Regions from separate parts of the Homo sapiens genome. Here region 2 is linked to region 1. Evidence: fine-mapped expression QTL. Tissue or cell type: whole blood. Region 1 holds a variant in brackets; the other region holds the start of a gene. All regions are shown on one strand. Distances are between the middles of the regions.

The links. PIP is the estimated chance that this variant, and not a neighbour inherited with it, causes the effect.
Region 2: it holds the start of ALDH9A1, and the variant in region 1 is fine-mapped to the expression of ALDH9A1 in whole blood (TOPMed, PIP above 0.99).

The regions. Positions count from the first base shown.
Region 1 is chr1:165,726,838-165,734,943 of GRCh38, reverse strand. It overlaps TMCO1 (transmembrane and coiled-coil domains 1), which reads left to right. Exons shown (of 7, transcript NM_019026.6): 7 at 6,823-8,106. The coding sequence ends at 6,921. Among named protein-coding and RNA genes, the nearest start is that of ALDH9A1, 32 kb to the right of the region's middle. The variant G/A (reference allele first, on the strand shown) is at 4,626.
Region 2 is chr1:165,695,116-165,703,221 of GRCh38, reverse strand. ALDH9A1 (aldehyde dehydrogenase 9 family member A1) reads left to right here and starts at 4,660. Exons shown (of 11, transcript NM_000696.4): 1 at 4,660-4,844; 2 at 7,825-7,970. The coding sequence starts at 4,664. It also overlaps the pseudogene CA14P1. RefSeq lists enhancers at 4,225-4,404, 4,269-4,851, 4,695-4,924 and a silencer at 4,475-4,664.

The DNA.
Region 1 (8,106 bases):
GCTTCCGTTTTCTACCCTATTTTATTTGTTTTCTGTATTGGGCTTTTATACATCACATTTTATTTTTCAAAAGGCTTCTGTTAATCTCTGTGAATTGTGTGCAAAAAAACAAAACAAAACAAAACAAAACAAAAAACGATGGGCCGAGCGCGGTGGCTCACACCTGTAATCCTAGCACTTTGGGAGGCCAAGGCAGGTGGATCACGAGGTCAGAAGTTCAAGACCAGCCTGGCCAAGATGGTGAAACCCTGTCTCTACTAAAAATACAAAATTAGCCGGGCATGGTGGCAGGCGCCTGTAATCCCAGCTACTTGGGAGGCTAAGGAAGAGAATTGCTTGAACTCAGGAGGTGGTGGAGGTTGCAGTGAGCTGAGATCACACCACTGCACTCCAGCCTGGACGACAGAGTAAGACTCCGTCTCAAAAAATAAAAATAAAAAAGAATAGAAATTTATTTTAAAAATTAAAAAATAAAAGAGTTATTAAAGGCTTTAAGGGTCTGAAAATGATTGATCTAGTCAACCCTCTTTTTTCTAACAGTAAGGACATTGAGATTTGGTAAAATGAAAAGATACTCCTATTGTTTTATTGTCTAGTTTGTCAGCACTGTAACCCAAGTTTTCTGATTGCTAACCCAATAATATTTCAGCGATATCAAGCTTGTACGATAAGGTTTTTTTAGTAAATATTTAATCTCTACATTATTTTTCCCAAATAGTCTAGTCAGATATAATGTGAGAGCCCTGGTAATATTGGAAAGGGTCGTTTTGAAGTGATTAGATTTTATATACAGCTTTGTTGATAGAGTAAAGATTACATTGTGGGAATTAATGAGATATTGCGATTAATTGGAAGTGAAGACTGGTTGCCAGATGTCAGAGAAACTAACAGAGTGAACTGAGGATTGCCATAGGTGTGTTATTTTAGCTAAATGACTAAGGAATAAAATTCAGCAGAATGTGTTTATTGCCATTGACCTGGGTCTTCCCAAAATATCCAGTTAGCAACCAACAACTTCCGTTTCTTGATCACTGGTTCTTAATCATGGTAAAGAGGAAAGAACACAAATCCTGTGTTTGTATTTTTCAGGTTTTCCTGCCAGTAGAAGACACAATTATGGGAAAATGTTTTTCCTTTGTTTTTCTCTTCTGGGTATACATTCTTCATTTGTTACCCTGTTATACAGGACTGGACAGGAATTCAAAATAATTGTTTTACATTTTTCCAAAACTTGATTGCATCTTACTATATTTTGCATTTCTATTTTCTTTCATAGCATCTTTATTATATATTAAAACTCCTATCTTTTAGCTAAATGCATATTTCTTTCTTTTTTTTTGTTTTTTTTGAGATGGAGTCTTGCTCTGTCACCCAGGTTGGAGTGCAGCTGCACGATCTCCTACAACCTCTGCCTCCCGGGTTTCAAATGATTCTCCTGCCTCAGCCTCCCAAGTAGCTAGGATTACAGGCGCATGTGGAGACGGGTTTCACCATGTTGGCCAGGCTGGTCTCAAACTCCTGATCTCAGATGATCCACCCACCTCGGCCTCCCAAGGTGCTGGGATTACAGGTGTGAGCCACCACTCCTGGCCTAAATGCATATTTCTAAACTAAATCTTGCTAATTAACAAGGCCTGAAAACTTGACCTCAAGAAGAAAGAAAAATTGAGAGATTATAGGAAAGCAGTCAGGTTAAGTTTAATGGATGAGATTGTTGAAAGATGTAATGAGATAATATATACAAAAGTGCCTGCTGTACAGTGTGGTATTCAGTGAGTATTTATTGAATTACAGCCTGACCATTGGTATCTTATTTTTCTTATCTACATGCAAGGATAATGATGTCCACCTCATTAAGTTGTGAGGATTTAAATGAGGACATACATATAAAGGTCTTAGAACAATGCCTTGCAGAGTGTAAGTACTCAGTAACTGTTAACCATTATTATTGTTGTTATTCTTTTTTTTAGCTTCATACTATGACCTTCACTTTAAAATAGCACCCACAGGAATATTTTTCTTTATTTTAAAAGTATTCCATTTAGCAGTATTTCAAAAAGTTGGGGAAGGCAAGATATGAGAAAAAGTATACAACTATTATTAATACAACTGTTATCTTACTATATATTCTTAAATACTTTATATTCCCTTTTATAGACCTTATTTTTTAGAACAGTTTTAGGTTCACAGCAAAATTGAGTGGAAGGTACAGAGATTTCATATATATGCCTTGCCCCCACATATGCATAGCACACCCCTCTATCAACTTTCTCCACCAGAGTGGTACATTTGTTACAATTGATTAATCTACACTGACATATAATTATTACCCCCAAATCCATAGTTTATGTTAGGGTCCATTCTTTGCATTGTACATTCTATGGGTTTTTTGCATAGCAACTATATTTTATATGTGTATGTTTATATATATATATATAGAGAGAGAGAGAGAGAGAGAGAGAGAGAAACCATTTGCTCATTTAACAGCATAATTGTGATTTTTTAAAAAAATAGGCCTGTTACACGATTTTTTATTCCTTTTTTTTTTTTTTTTTGCTTCTTTATGTGATTTTTTTATTCCTAAGATAACAGTCTGTTACAGAGAGGTGGCTTAATAAAGGAAAACTGCACTTTGAGTTATATCAGTTCACTTTCTGACTTGTAACCTCTCCCTACATCAACTTTCTCATCTCAACAGCAGGGATAACTAAGGACTACTATCTAGTCCTTAGAACTGTTTGCAAACTTTAAAGTGTGTAGAAATGTAGGATGTTACTACTGTAGAGATATTAGTGACGTCTGGTCCTTTTACCTGTGGCTCTTGCATCTTGAGACCATCACTTAGTTCCTACATGGGTTTTAGGGGAAAAGATTTCACTGATGGAAAAGCAGGGGAAATCTGTCTGAGAAAAATGGAAGACCTAGGTTTCACCTGTGAGACTATAGGAATTTAAACAGATTAGTTTAGAATTTCACGAAAGGATAAAATTGCATGCAGTAAATGCAGAATGTTTGTGTTAAAATACAAATACCTGTGTAATGTAACACCGATACATTTAATTTAGTGTTCCCAAAACGGGTCTGTGGCAAGAGCCACAAGGAAAGGAAAGTATAGAGTAAAGGAAAGTATAGAGTTGCCTGGATTTCCATGTACTTTGGCTGTGGCTACTGAAGTGTCTCATTTTTAACACTTTTTTGTTGCTGCTATTGCTATTTGAGATATTCCCGTCTAGAGCAGTGGCTTACCCTCAGTAGTCATTTAAATATTTTGAGTTAGTAAATGAAATTCAACAGACTACCAGTTCAGTTTCTTGTTTCTTCAAAATATTATTTTTTATTTTTTCAATCATCTTCTTTAAATCACGGTAAACCTATAAAGGGCATCCAACATTTTTACATTGGTTTTTAATCTCTAAAATGATAAGGACTCATCTATTTGACCCTTCAGAATAACTGAGCAAGAATCCCTTGTGTATTTTGTCTAGGCTATATTACTGTATTTGTTAACTAGACAAATATGTTTATCAGCAGCTAATTCTGTATGTCTTACTGTTTCAAATTTTATCTTTAAAGCAATTTCCCTTAATGCCTAGCTTAGTGCTAAATACATTGTAGGTGCTCAGGAAATATTAATTAAATAAAGAAATTGCAAACTAGTGACATCATTTGGTCTTTTTACTGCTTTGTGTAATGGGTTTTTTAGAGGTGAGCTTTAAGGAGCTATTTTTATTATAAAAGTAATGCAGGCCAGGTACGGTGGCTCATGCCTGTAATTCCAGCACTTTGGGAGGCTGAGACAGGCGGATCACGAAGTCAAGAGATCGAGACCATCCTGGCCAACATGGTGATACCCCGTCTCTACTAAAAATACAAAAAATTAGCTGGGCATGATGATGTGCCCCTGTATTCCCTGCTACTCGGGAGGTTGAGGCAGGAGGATCGCTTGAACCTGGGAGGCGGAGGTTGCAGTGAGCCAAGATCGCACCACTGCACTCCAGCCTGGCGACAGAGCGAGACTCTGTCTCAAAAAAAAAAAAAGTATTGCAAAGTAGGCCGGGCATAGTGGCTCACCCCTATAATGCCAGCACCTGGGAGGCTGAGGTGAGCAGATCACTGGAGCCCAAGAGTTTGAGACCAGCGTGGCCAACATGGCAAAACCCCAACTCTATTAAAAATGCAAAAATTAGCTGGGCATGGTGGCATGCCTGTTAGTCCCAGCTCCTCGGGAGGCTGAGGTGGGAAGAATGCTTGAGCCCGGGAAGTGGAGGTTGCAGTGAGCTGTGATCACACCACTGCACTCCAGCCTCAGTGACAGAGCAAGACCACGTCTCAGAAAAAGAAATACAAAGTCTGATCATTCTCCATCTTTACTAAGGAGAGGTATCCTAATGTACTAACGATTGATTTTTTTCTTCACTCATTTCAGATGTCTTCTTAAAGAATGAGCTATAGTATTGTTGAATGTATGTACTGAAATATTTTATGGTAAATATAATTTAGATGAGTCCTTAAAGTTATGTCCTCCATATTTAAACATTCTGTTGTATTCTAACAGTGTTACCTCAATACACATTCTTTTTTTTTTTTTGTTTTGTTTTGTTTTTGTTTTGAGACGGAGTCTCGCC[G/A]TCGCCCAGGCTGGAGTGCAGTGGCGCGATCTCGGCTCACTGCAGGCTCCGCCCCCTGGGGTTCGTGCCATTCTCCTGCCTCAGCCTCCTGAGTAGCTGGGACTACAGGCGCCCGCCACCTCTCCCGGCTAATTTTTTTTTTTTTGTGTGTGTGTATTTTTAGTACAGACGGGGTTTCACCGTGTTAGCCAGGATGATCTCGATCTCCTGACCTCGTGATCCGCCCGCCTCGGCCTCCCAAAGTGCTGGGATTACAGGCGTGAGCCACCGCGCCCGGCCGTCCTCAATACACATTCTTATCCATAGTAGTCATCATTCTTCATGATGAAGGATTGAGGGTGTGTATGCTTGTAGAGAAGCCTGGTTATGGATATTCTCACAGTATCTTATATCTAGTAGGTACTCAGTAACTACTGGATGAATAGTTTAATGCATGCAAACCTGCCTACCACAGAATGGAGTTTGTTCTGAAGAGCAGAACTTTAACACAGAAACTACTGTGTAAGAGAATCCATTAGATTAAGGGTCGAAACACAACAGGTTTAAATTCTAACTGTGCTCTTAATTTAGCTTTGTAATTCTGGATAAGCCATCCATCATACCTTTCTGAGTTTTAGTTTCTTCAAATATAAAATGAAGGAACTGGGCAAGAATAATCAGGATCTCTAAGGTTTTTTTCCTCTTATAAAATGCTACATTGGCTGGGCGCAGTGGCTCATGCCTGTAATCCCAGCACTTTGGGAGGCTGAGGCAGGCGGATCACCTGAGGTCAGGAGTTCAAGACCAGCCTGGCCAACATGGTGAAACCCCTTCTCTACTAAAAAAAATACAAAAATTAGCTGGGTGTGATAGCAGGCACCTGTAATCTCAGCTACTTAGGAGGCTGAGGCAGGCAGAATCGCTTGACCCAGGAGGCAGAGGTTACTGTGAGCCGACATCGTGCCACTGTACTCTAGCTTGGATGACAGAGTGAGACTCCATCTCAAAAAAAAAAAAAAAGAATTATGAGAACAAAGTATGTTTTTAAAAACTGAATAAAAGTATAAAAGTGAGTTTCTTAAAAAATTGCATTAGATGTAGGTGAAACAATGGAAAAAGATGACAGGGTCCTGAAAATTTAGGAGAATTCTGAACTCAGAGTGCTTTGCAGGTTTCTGAGTACTTTCAACACTGTAAAGAAATTGAAACTGGTTTTTTTTTTTTTTTTTTTTTTTTAGACAGAATCTCACTCTGTTGCCCAGGCTGGAATGCAGTGGTGCAGTCTTGGCTCACGCAGCCTCTGCCTCCTAGGTTCAAGGGACTCTCATGCCTCACCCTCCCGAGTAGCTAGGACTACAGGTGTATGCCACAATGCCCAGCTAATTTTTGTATTTTTCTACTAAAAAGTAGAGATGGGGTTTTACCATGTTGTCCAAGCTCGTCTTGAACTCCTAGCCTCAAGTGATCTACCCACCTCAGCCTCCCAAAGTGCTGGGATTACAGGCGTGAGCCACCACACCCGGCCGAAACTGAAAATTATAGACAGTGCAGTAATGACAAATCCAGCCAGCAGACCCGTACTCAAAGAAAATGCCCATAAGAAATAGCTAATGAATATTCTTCATATGCTTCTTGTTAAAAAAATTATCTCCTTTTATGATTCTCTACTCGAAAAAAATCAACCACTTTCATTAGTAGACCAAGGTCTCATCAGGTAAGGAAGGCTTTTACTGTTCTATGATTTTCATTACATTGTAGGCCTTTTTAAAAAATAACATAGTGATTGCCAGGTGCGGTGACTCCCTCCTGTAATCCCAGCACTTTGGGAGGCCGAGGTGGGCAGATCATGAGGTCAGGAGATCGAGACCATCCTGGCTAACATGATGAAACCCTGTCTCTACTAAATATACAGAAAATTAGCCGGGTGTGGTGGCGGGCACCTGTAGTCCCAGCTACTCGGGAGGCTGAGGCAGGAGAATGACGTGAACCTGGGAGGCAGAGCTTGCAGTGAGCCAAGATTGCTCCACTGCACTCCAGCCTGGGTGACAGAGCGAGACTCCATCTCAAAAAAAAAAAAAAGTGATAATCATCCTATTGCAGGTCATAATGGTTCCTTTAATCTATATGAGTATGAGTTCCCTTTGCCTGAGAGCTACATAAAACACATCTTCTGTATATTTGATATTAAAACCCAATCCTTACTGTGCTTTCTTCACAGAACATTCAGAAGATTCTCGGCCTTGCCCCTTCACGAGCCGCCACCAAGCAGGCAGGTGGATTTCTTGGCCCACCACCTCCTTCTGGGAAGTTCTCTTGAACTCAAGAACTCTTTATTTTCTATCATTCTTTCTAGACACACACACATCAGACTGGCAACTGTTTTGTAGCAAGAGCCATAGGTAGCCTTACTACTTGGGCCTCTTTCTAGTTTTGAATTATTTCTAAGCCTTTTGGGTATGATTAGAGTGAAAATGGCAGCCAGCAAACTTGATAGTGCTTTTGGTCCTAGATGATTTTTATCAAATAAGTGGATTGATTAGTTAAGTTCAGGTAATGTTTATGTAATGAAAAACAAATAGCATCCTTCTTGTTTCATTTACATAAGTATTTTCTGTGGGACCGACTCTCAAGGCACTGTGTATGCCCTGCAAGTTGGCTGTCTATGAGCATTTAGAGATTTAGAAGAAAAATTTAGTTTGTTTAACCCTTGTAACTGTTTGTTTTGTTGTTGTTTTTTTTTCAAGCCAAATACATGACATAAGATCAATAAAGAGGCCAAATTTTTAGCTGTTTTATGTACAAGGAGAGATCTGTTTCATTTTGTTTTGCCGTATTTCTAGATATAAGTTTTAGCATGGGCCAGGAAGGACTAAAATAAAAGTTTTTAAGGTACTGTACTTTTTGCCATACTTGACTCATATACTCAAAATACAGAGTTGTCTTGGTGTAGGAATTGGAAAGCAAGAGTGGAAAGGAACGTAATAACTCGTTGGAGTTTAAAAATGAGGGTCTTGGCAAGTAACACTGATGTCTGAAAAAAAATTAAATATAAATAAATAAATAAAAATGAGGGTCCTCAGCTGTTCTCTTCATATCCTATTACAGTCTCTCAGATTCTTGTGGGGGCACTCTTAGATCTCCCTTGGAGACAAGGTTATAGTTATATGTTGTTAATCTCGCAGAGCTTCCTTTTAGTCACAATAGCCTTCATTTTCTGCCATGCCCCTTCATAAGGGAGAAGGATGTTTGTACCATGATCCTCCCCGCATAATCTATGGAATTAGGAGTCCTGTGTGGAGTCTTATCAATAAATATGCACATTCATCAAATGTCTACTTAAATGTGAGTATTCTACCAGTGAGAAAAAACACATAATTTTCAAGGTAATCATTGTTAAACCAACAGCAAACTTCTTTCTTATCAGCACCATAAAGTCCAGAAGACAGTAGAAAAGTATCTTCAAAGTGCTGAGGAAAATAAGTATCAACTTAGAATTTTATGT
Region 2 (8,106 bases), 32 kb after region 1:
CATCCTGGTACATACCTGTCTTCCCAGGTACTCAGGAGGCTGAAGCGGGAGGATTGATTGATCCCAGGATATTGAGGCTGCAGTGAGAAGTTATCACACCACTGCACTCCAGCCTGGATGACAGAGTGAGATCCTTTCCCAGAAAACAAAAATCATATCCTTTTTTTAAAAAAACCTTCTGAATCTCTCATTTTTATATCTTATACATTTGGAAGAGTTGGAATAATTTCTATATAATGCTACTGTCTTAGATAACAGACAGATTCTAAATTTTTCTGTAAGCTCAGTAGCCTTTAGCCTCTAGCTGATTATCAACTCCAAGAACAAATTCCAAAGTCAATGACCCTGAATTTCATTTGAGAAAAACACGAAGGCACTGCAAACTATGAACATTGTTATTATAATAGCAATTGTATAGTGCTTTCTAATTTTTAGACCACTTTCACATACTGTTTCATATTACCTCAGGTTTATAAATTAAACCTATTTTTGAAAATATGAGTATTATAGCCTAAAAAGCTGTTAAAAATGAAAAAGACTAGATTATCCAAGCAGAGATGCCTAAGTAGCATTAGGGGACATCCTCATCAGCGCAGTGATTTCAAAGTCCTGGTTTGTAACACCTGACTGATGTGTTCATTCAACAAATATTCATTAAGGACCTAATCCTAGTGTCAGGCTGCCTAGATTAGGAAACCTGTTAGGTCTTCAGTGAGAAAATTACATTCTGTATATGAAGAATGTGAGGACACTCAGGCTTAAAATAAAATTCAATCTGTAAATTATTGTTAAGTGAAAGGCCCTGTTAAAATGGGCAGGAACAGGATTCTGAGTAATTTTTTCCTTTCTTTTTGTGTGGATGGTTTTCTGGCTCCCCACTGAAGGAGTTGCAACAGTAGTAAACATACTATTGTTCAGGAAATAAAAATAAATGTGGTGTGTGTGTGTTTGATGTATTAATAGTTCTAGAGGACAGACTAAGAGCTAGTACTCCCTAAAGATCTTTTCTTTCTTTTTTTTTTTTTTTTTTTGTTTTTGGAGAGCGAGTCTTGCTCTGTCGCCCAGGCTGGAGTGCAATGTTGCAATCTTGGCTCACTGCAGCCTCTGCCTCCAGGTTCAAGCGATCCTCGCGCTTCAACCCCCCAGCAGCTGGGACTAGAGGTGTGCGCCACCACACTTGGCTTTTTTTTTTTTTTTTTTTTGTATTTTTAGTAGAGACAGGGGTCTCACCATGTTGTCCAGGCTGGTCTGGAACTCCTGAGCTCAGGCAATCCACCCACCTCCGCCTCCCAAAGTGCTGGGATTACAGGTGTGAGCCACCGCATCCGGCATTTGCTTTTACTCTGGAGGTTGTGTCCAAGAAGAGTACTGCTAATGGTGAAACTAAGCCAAAGCAACAAATTGACAACTGGATGACCTGAGGGAGAGGCCAGTGAAGGACCCTGGATCACACAGTATGGGTTCCCAAGGACTTCTTCCTTTAGGAGACCTGGAGGTGGCAGAAGGGGATCCAGTTGCTTTTCTTTTCCTCCTCTGGTTGTCTGGGGAAGGAAATGTGGAAAAGGAGGGGGCTTTAGTGGCACCCAAGTTTGGCTTTAAGCAAGTTGTGAGGCAGGCAGTTTCTCCTTGGATCTTCTACCCCTTTAGCAATGATTCCACTCCTTTTCTATCTCTTTTTACCCCCAAATCTGCCCTCCAACACACACCCATCTAAGAGGTGTTTCTCTTTTGGCATTCCTTCTGCTCCTTGTGGCATCTTTGTCCCTTTGAATTTCACCCTGAACTTGTAAACTGGCCAGCATCCTCTGTGACTTCTGGGCTGCTTACTGGGTAGTGCTGACAAATATCCTAAGAAGTTTACATGTCCTTTAAATCTCCCTAGAACCAGATTTCTGGGTTTCTGATAAATATCCACCAACATAAGAGTGAATTTTGATAGCAACCTTCATGGGGTCAACATCTCGACCTGGTGTAGTAAGAAGAAATTTACTTTGGACTTGCACAGAGCTGGACTCCAGCCTTAGCTCCTTTATGGGGAAGCTCTACGACCTTTCTATTAGTTTCCTCATCTGTACAATGGGGATGATAAAACCTATCTTGCATGATTGTCACTGAGATATTTGACAAAGTGCCACATACTACCTCCTAGCTCAATCTCTGTTAGTTTCCTTTTCTTTTGTAGGGTTATTATGAGCTTCATGTGAGAAAGTAAATGTGAAAGGGCTCTGTAACCTATAAAGCTCTTTCTACATGTTGGATTTTGCTAATGAAAAATAATACATTAATAATCTAATAATAAGGGTGGAAGGAGGGAGAGGATCAGGAAAAATAACTCATGGGTACTAGGCTTAATACCTGGGTAATGAAATAATCTATACAACACACCCCCATGACACAAGTTTACCTATGTAACAAATCTTTACATGTACCCCTGAACCTAAAAGTTAAAAATAATAATTTAATAATAAAAGCACAGATAGGTAAGAGGAACAGCTAGATATTTAAAAGGTAGATATTTTGGAGGAGATCTGTTTTCTTTGGGGAAGGGTCTTACTCTGTTGCCCAGGCTGGAGCAGTGGTGCCATGATCGCTCACTCCAGTCTTGAACTCCTGGCCTCAAGCAATCCTCCACCTCAGTCTCTTGAGTAGTCAGGACTACACGCTTGTGCCACCATGCTCGGCTAATTTTTAAAAATATTTTGTAGAGACAGAGTCTCACTATGTTGCCCAGGCTGGTCTTGAACTCCTGGCCTCAAGCGATCCTCCTGCCACGGTCTCCCAAAGTGTTGAGATTACAGGTGTGAGTCCTGTGCCTGGCCAGAGGTTTGTCAGTCTTATCATCTATGAATTAATTCAATAGACATCACGACCACATTTCCAAAACAAACATCAGGAATTATGATGTGACAAGTCAAAATGCATTGGTTGGGGACAGAATCTTTTAAATAGAAATTGTCCCATAAAATTTGAGACGTATAGTTTCTGTACCTAAATGACCATTCAGTGATCTTGGAAATCTATAGTGCTGCTCGTCACCAACTCCTGATATGTTTCAATTCTGTTTGCAATGGACAATAATAAAATAATATGTGAGTGTGGCCTCAGGTATTCTGAGTTTGGGCACTGCTGTTTCCATCTGAGGACCAAGACCTACACATCTCAGTAGCACTGAAAAAGTGAACAAACTGGTATAGAGTGCCAGAAAACTTGATCAGAATACATTATATATACTCTAAACCTGAAAACCACACTCCCTAATATTGCGCTGGTGAGCTGGCAGGTAAAGGAAAAAACATTGAGAAAGACAGCAGCCCCCAGAAGAGAAACAATCCTAAAAGAAATGTCCAAATTGCCAATTACTTTCTGTTTGTCAAAGTCTCTACTGGAGGTGCATGGAAGTTTGGTGAGAAGAATGAACCTTTGTGCAAGATCCCTCAGCTGACAGACCTGTGAGTGCCTCTGGGTGGCTGCTTTGTCTTACAGAAGGCATTTTGTTTCCTGACACTTTTTCCTGTGGCCTTTGCTCTTCGTATTCTGTATGTTAGGCTTCTGTTTCTATCAATATTTGTCATTAATAGCATTTACATTGCTCCTTCAGAATTTATTTATTTTGAGACAGGGTCTCGCTCTGTTGCCCAGGCCTGAGTGCAGTGGCACGATTATAGCTCACTGCAAGCTTGGACCCCCGGGGCTCAGGGGATCCTCCCACCTTAGCCGCCCAAGTACCTGGGGCCACAGGCGTGTGCCACCACACCTGGATAATTTTTTTTTTTTCTGAGTTTCACTCTTGTCACCCAGACTGGAGTGCAATGGCATAGTCTCGGCTCACTGCAACCCGTCTCCCGGGTTCAAGCGATTTTCCCACCTCAGCCTCCCAAGTAGCTGGGATTACAGGCGCCCGCCACCACACCCAGCTAATTTTTGTATTTTTAGTAGAGACGGGGTTTTACCATTTTGGTCAGGCTGGTCTCGAACTCCTGACCTCAGGTGATCTGCCCGCCTTGGCCTCCCAAAGTGCTAGGATTACAGGCGTGAGCCACCGCGCCCGGCCCAATTTTTATTATTTTTATTTTATTTTTTTATAGACACGGGATCTCTCTCTGTTGCCCGCAAACTCCTGGGCTCAAGCGATCCTCCAGCCTTGGTGAGAGCCACAGCGCCCAGTCTCTCTTTAAGAATTTAAAAAGCAGTTTCAGATCACAATATCATCTATCTCGTTCACAGTCCCCTTGCTTTTTACTGTCACCCTTTAAAAAGCATTATACAATTACAGAAACGGTGGTTTAGCAGTGAAGTAACCACCAAAGACTCTTGGCACTCCAATCCTCTGCCTTCTTCAGGCGATAGGATTAAGAATGGGATCCTAGGATGCTTACATGCAATGATGAACCCGAAAACACTTGCAAAGTGCTACGCAAATATTGATCACGAAGAAGGAAGTCCTCTTCCCGCCTGGAGACTGTGTGGGGTATGGCGGGGTGGTGGGGAGAATGTGGTGTCTTGCTCCACCCTCCTGGCGAGGGGAGGGCCTGGCCTGGACCGCAGAGGAATCGAGTGACTGCCCCTAAAATCTCCTAGAACCGATCCCGCGGCCCCGCCCCTCCCGCGGCCCCGCCCCTCCCGCGGCCCGTCAGCCTCTGCCGCGGAGCTGCGTCCGCCACTCATGTTTCTCCGAGCAGGCCTGGCCGCGCTCTCCCCGCTTCTTCGCAGTCTTCGGCCCTCTCCTGTCGCCGCCATGAGCACTGGCACCTTCGTCGTGTCGCAGCCGCTCAATTACCGCGGCGGGGCCCGCGTGGAGCCGGCGGACGCCTCCGGTACCGAGAAAGCTTTCGAGCCAGCAACCGGTAACTGCAACGAGCCGGGGAGGCTGGGGCGCCCTGGGGCCGGATGCGCGGATTTCCCGGCCAGCCCCCGTTTCCTGTGTTCTGCAGCGTTGACTTGAGCACAAGACAGTGACAGTGGAGAGTCTAAGGTTGTGTGTGTAGGCAACTAGCGATTCTGGGGCAACGCGAGTGCCTCCGGGCAGGGATGGGTAGGGAGGAAAAGCAAAGCTGATGAGTTGCGTGGTAGGATCGTGAGTTGTTTTACCCGGGCCAGAACAGAGTTCGCAAAGTACTGGTGGGGGAAGTCGTGCCTCTGTTAACTTCCTTTTTTGTTTGTTTTGTTTGTTTGTTTGTTTTTTGTTTGTTTTGAGACAGGGTCTCACTCTGTCGCCCAGGCTGGAGTGCAGGGGCACCATCTCAGAGCTCACTGCGCCCTCTACCTTACGGGCTCAAGTGCTTCTCCCGCCTCAGCCTCCCTGGTAGCTGGGATTACAGGCTCCCACCACCATGTCCGGCTAATTTTTGTATTTTTAGTAGAGACGGGTTTTCAGCATGTTACTCAGGCTGGTCTCGAACTCCTGAGCTTAGGTGATCCTCCCGCCTCAGCCTCCCAAAGTGCTGGGATTACAGCCGTGAGCCACCAAGCCCAGCCAACTGTTCCCCCTTTTAAAACCAGGACTGATGTATTATTGTCTTCAAATGTGTGCATAGGAGAGGAATTCTAAAAGAACGGGGCGGGGTTGTGGGGAAGATAATCATTTGTGCTGGGAATGAAGGAACGCTCACAGATAGTTTCTAATGACTACGAATGAGGACTTTGTCTCCACATTCTAATATTAAAATATTTCTGCACATTAATCAGAATTGGGAAAGGAAAAAACCCCACCTTTATTCAGTACTTTCTTCCCCAGCTTTATTGAAGTATAATTAACAAATAAAAATTGTATATACTTAAGGTGTAAAACGTGTTGTAATGTATGTATACCTTGCAAAATGGTTACCACGGTCAATCTAATTATCCATTGCTTCTGCATAGTTAATGGCTTTTTTTGGATAGTGAAATATTTAAGATCTATTCTTTTAGCAAATTTCAAGTATATGATGCAGTATTGGTAACCATAGTCACCATGGTCTACGTGAGCTCTCCACAATTTATTCATCTTGCTGAAATAAAACTTTTTAATCCAGTGCTTAATGTGTGCTAAGCACTGTGCTAGGCACTGGATTTACTCTGGGAACTCTGAAGGTCACAGAGATAAGGAAGAAGGGGCTTTTTGTTTTGGTTTTGTGTTGTGTTTATTTTGCTGGGTTTTATGGAATATATGTGGGGAGAAAAATGTAAATATTTTGTGTAAAATGTAGCCAGAGCAATAAAACTGATTTGCAGGGGACTGGAGAATTTAGTATTTGACCATCCACACTAAACCACAGAGCAGTGACTTGGCAGAGCCAGAAGGCATTATCACATCTCTTCTTTATATAGGAGGAAACAGCTTCTCTACCCCGACTTAATCCTGATACAAAAGAAAGAAAAATTGCTCTTTGCTTTAATTGCCTACAGTGTGTGTGATCCTCAGCCACCGCCTTTACCAGCTGGCTATTCAAGTTTGTAACAGAAATTGCAGATTTGTGAAATCTCCCTGGAAAGAGTCCCAGGAGTTCTTGTGAAGAGGATTTGCTGAGTTGGCAAACTTAAAGAATTCTTGTTGGTAGAGGCAGTACAGTCCTTGGGCTATGGGCCTAGAAAAACTGATTGTTTCATAATTTGCACCAGAATAGGGAGAGGGAATAAAGGTGGAATAAGAAAAGGAAATCTGGGAATTTTTGAGAAAAAAAAAATGTTCCTTTAGGGTTGCCTTATCCTGATATTACTGCTTATTAACTATATTTATCAAGTATCAAGTAGTATGATATAACCTACATAGAATATAGACAAGGGATTTACAGTCAGAGTTTATAACCCAATAGACTGATTACTTTTGACTTTCATTTTACAAGACCCCTGAGATTCTGAGATAATGTTTAGGAGTGTTGCAAAACTTAATCAGAAGTTAATGTTAGTAAACTCAACTGTAAAATAGTAGAGGGCAGGGGTTCTTAACTCTAAATCCTTGATGAGTTTAGGGCAGGGGACATGACATTCCTGTAATTCTGTTATATGTTTAAGTAGATTTTTCTGGAGAGAGGTCTGCAACTTTTATCAGACTCCTAATGTCAATGACCGCAAAATACAGTTAAGAACTGCTAGGCCGGGTGTGGTGGCTCATGGCTGTAATCCCAGCACTTGGGGAGGCAGAGGTGGGTGAATCACTTGAGGTCAGGAATGTAAGACCAGCCTGGCCAACATGATGAAATCCCGTCTCTACTAAAAATACAAAAATTAGCTGTGTGTGGTGGCAGGCGCCTGTAATCCCAGCTACTCGGGAGGCTGAGGCAGGAGAATTGCTGGAACCCAGGAGGCAAAAGTTGCAGTGAGTCAAGATCGTGCCATTGCACTCCAGCCTGGGTAACAAGAGCGAGACTCCGTCTTAAAAAACAAAAAAACAAAACAAAAAAACCTGCTAGTATAGAGATGGTCACTAAATCAAACCATACATAAAAACAAGAAGTTACGGTAGCCCACGCCTGTAATTCCGGCACTTCGGGAGGCTGAGGCGGGTGGGTCACAAGGTCAGGAGATCAAGACCATCCTGGTCAACATGGTGAAACCCGGTCTCTACTAAAAAATACAAAAAATTAGCTGGGCGTAGTGGCGTGCACTGGTAGTCCCAGCTACTCAGGAGGCTGAGGCAGGGGAATCGCTTGAACTCAGGAGGCAGAGGTTGCAGTGAGCCGAGATCGCGCCACTGCACTCCAGCCTGGGTGACAGAGCAAGACTCCATCTCAAGAAAAAAAAAAAAAAAAAAAAAAAGACTACTACTAAGAGAATATTGATAGATAATATTTTATTTAAATATGTGGCAACAATTTGAGTTAAAACTGATGTTTCCGCTCTTTATAGGCCGAGTGATAGCTACTTTCACATGTTCAGGAGAAAAGGAAGTAAATTTGGCTGTTCAAAATGCAAAGGCTGCTTTTAAAATATGGAGTCAAAAATCTGGCATGGAGCGTTGCCGAATCCTTTTGGAGGCTGCCAGGATAATAAGGGTATGTTCCAATTTATTTCCTTCCAGAACTCAGACATTGCTCTGAGGTTTCTTTGTGATGTTTGCAGTTCGACTTTGTTGCAACATTAGGCCGTAACGTTTTTATAAAATGGAAAAACATTTCCACATGCTCACCT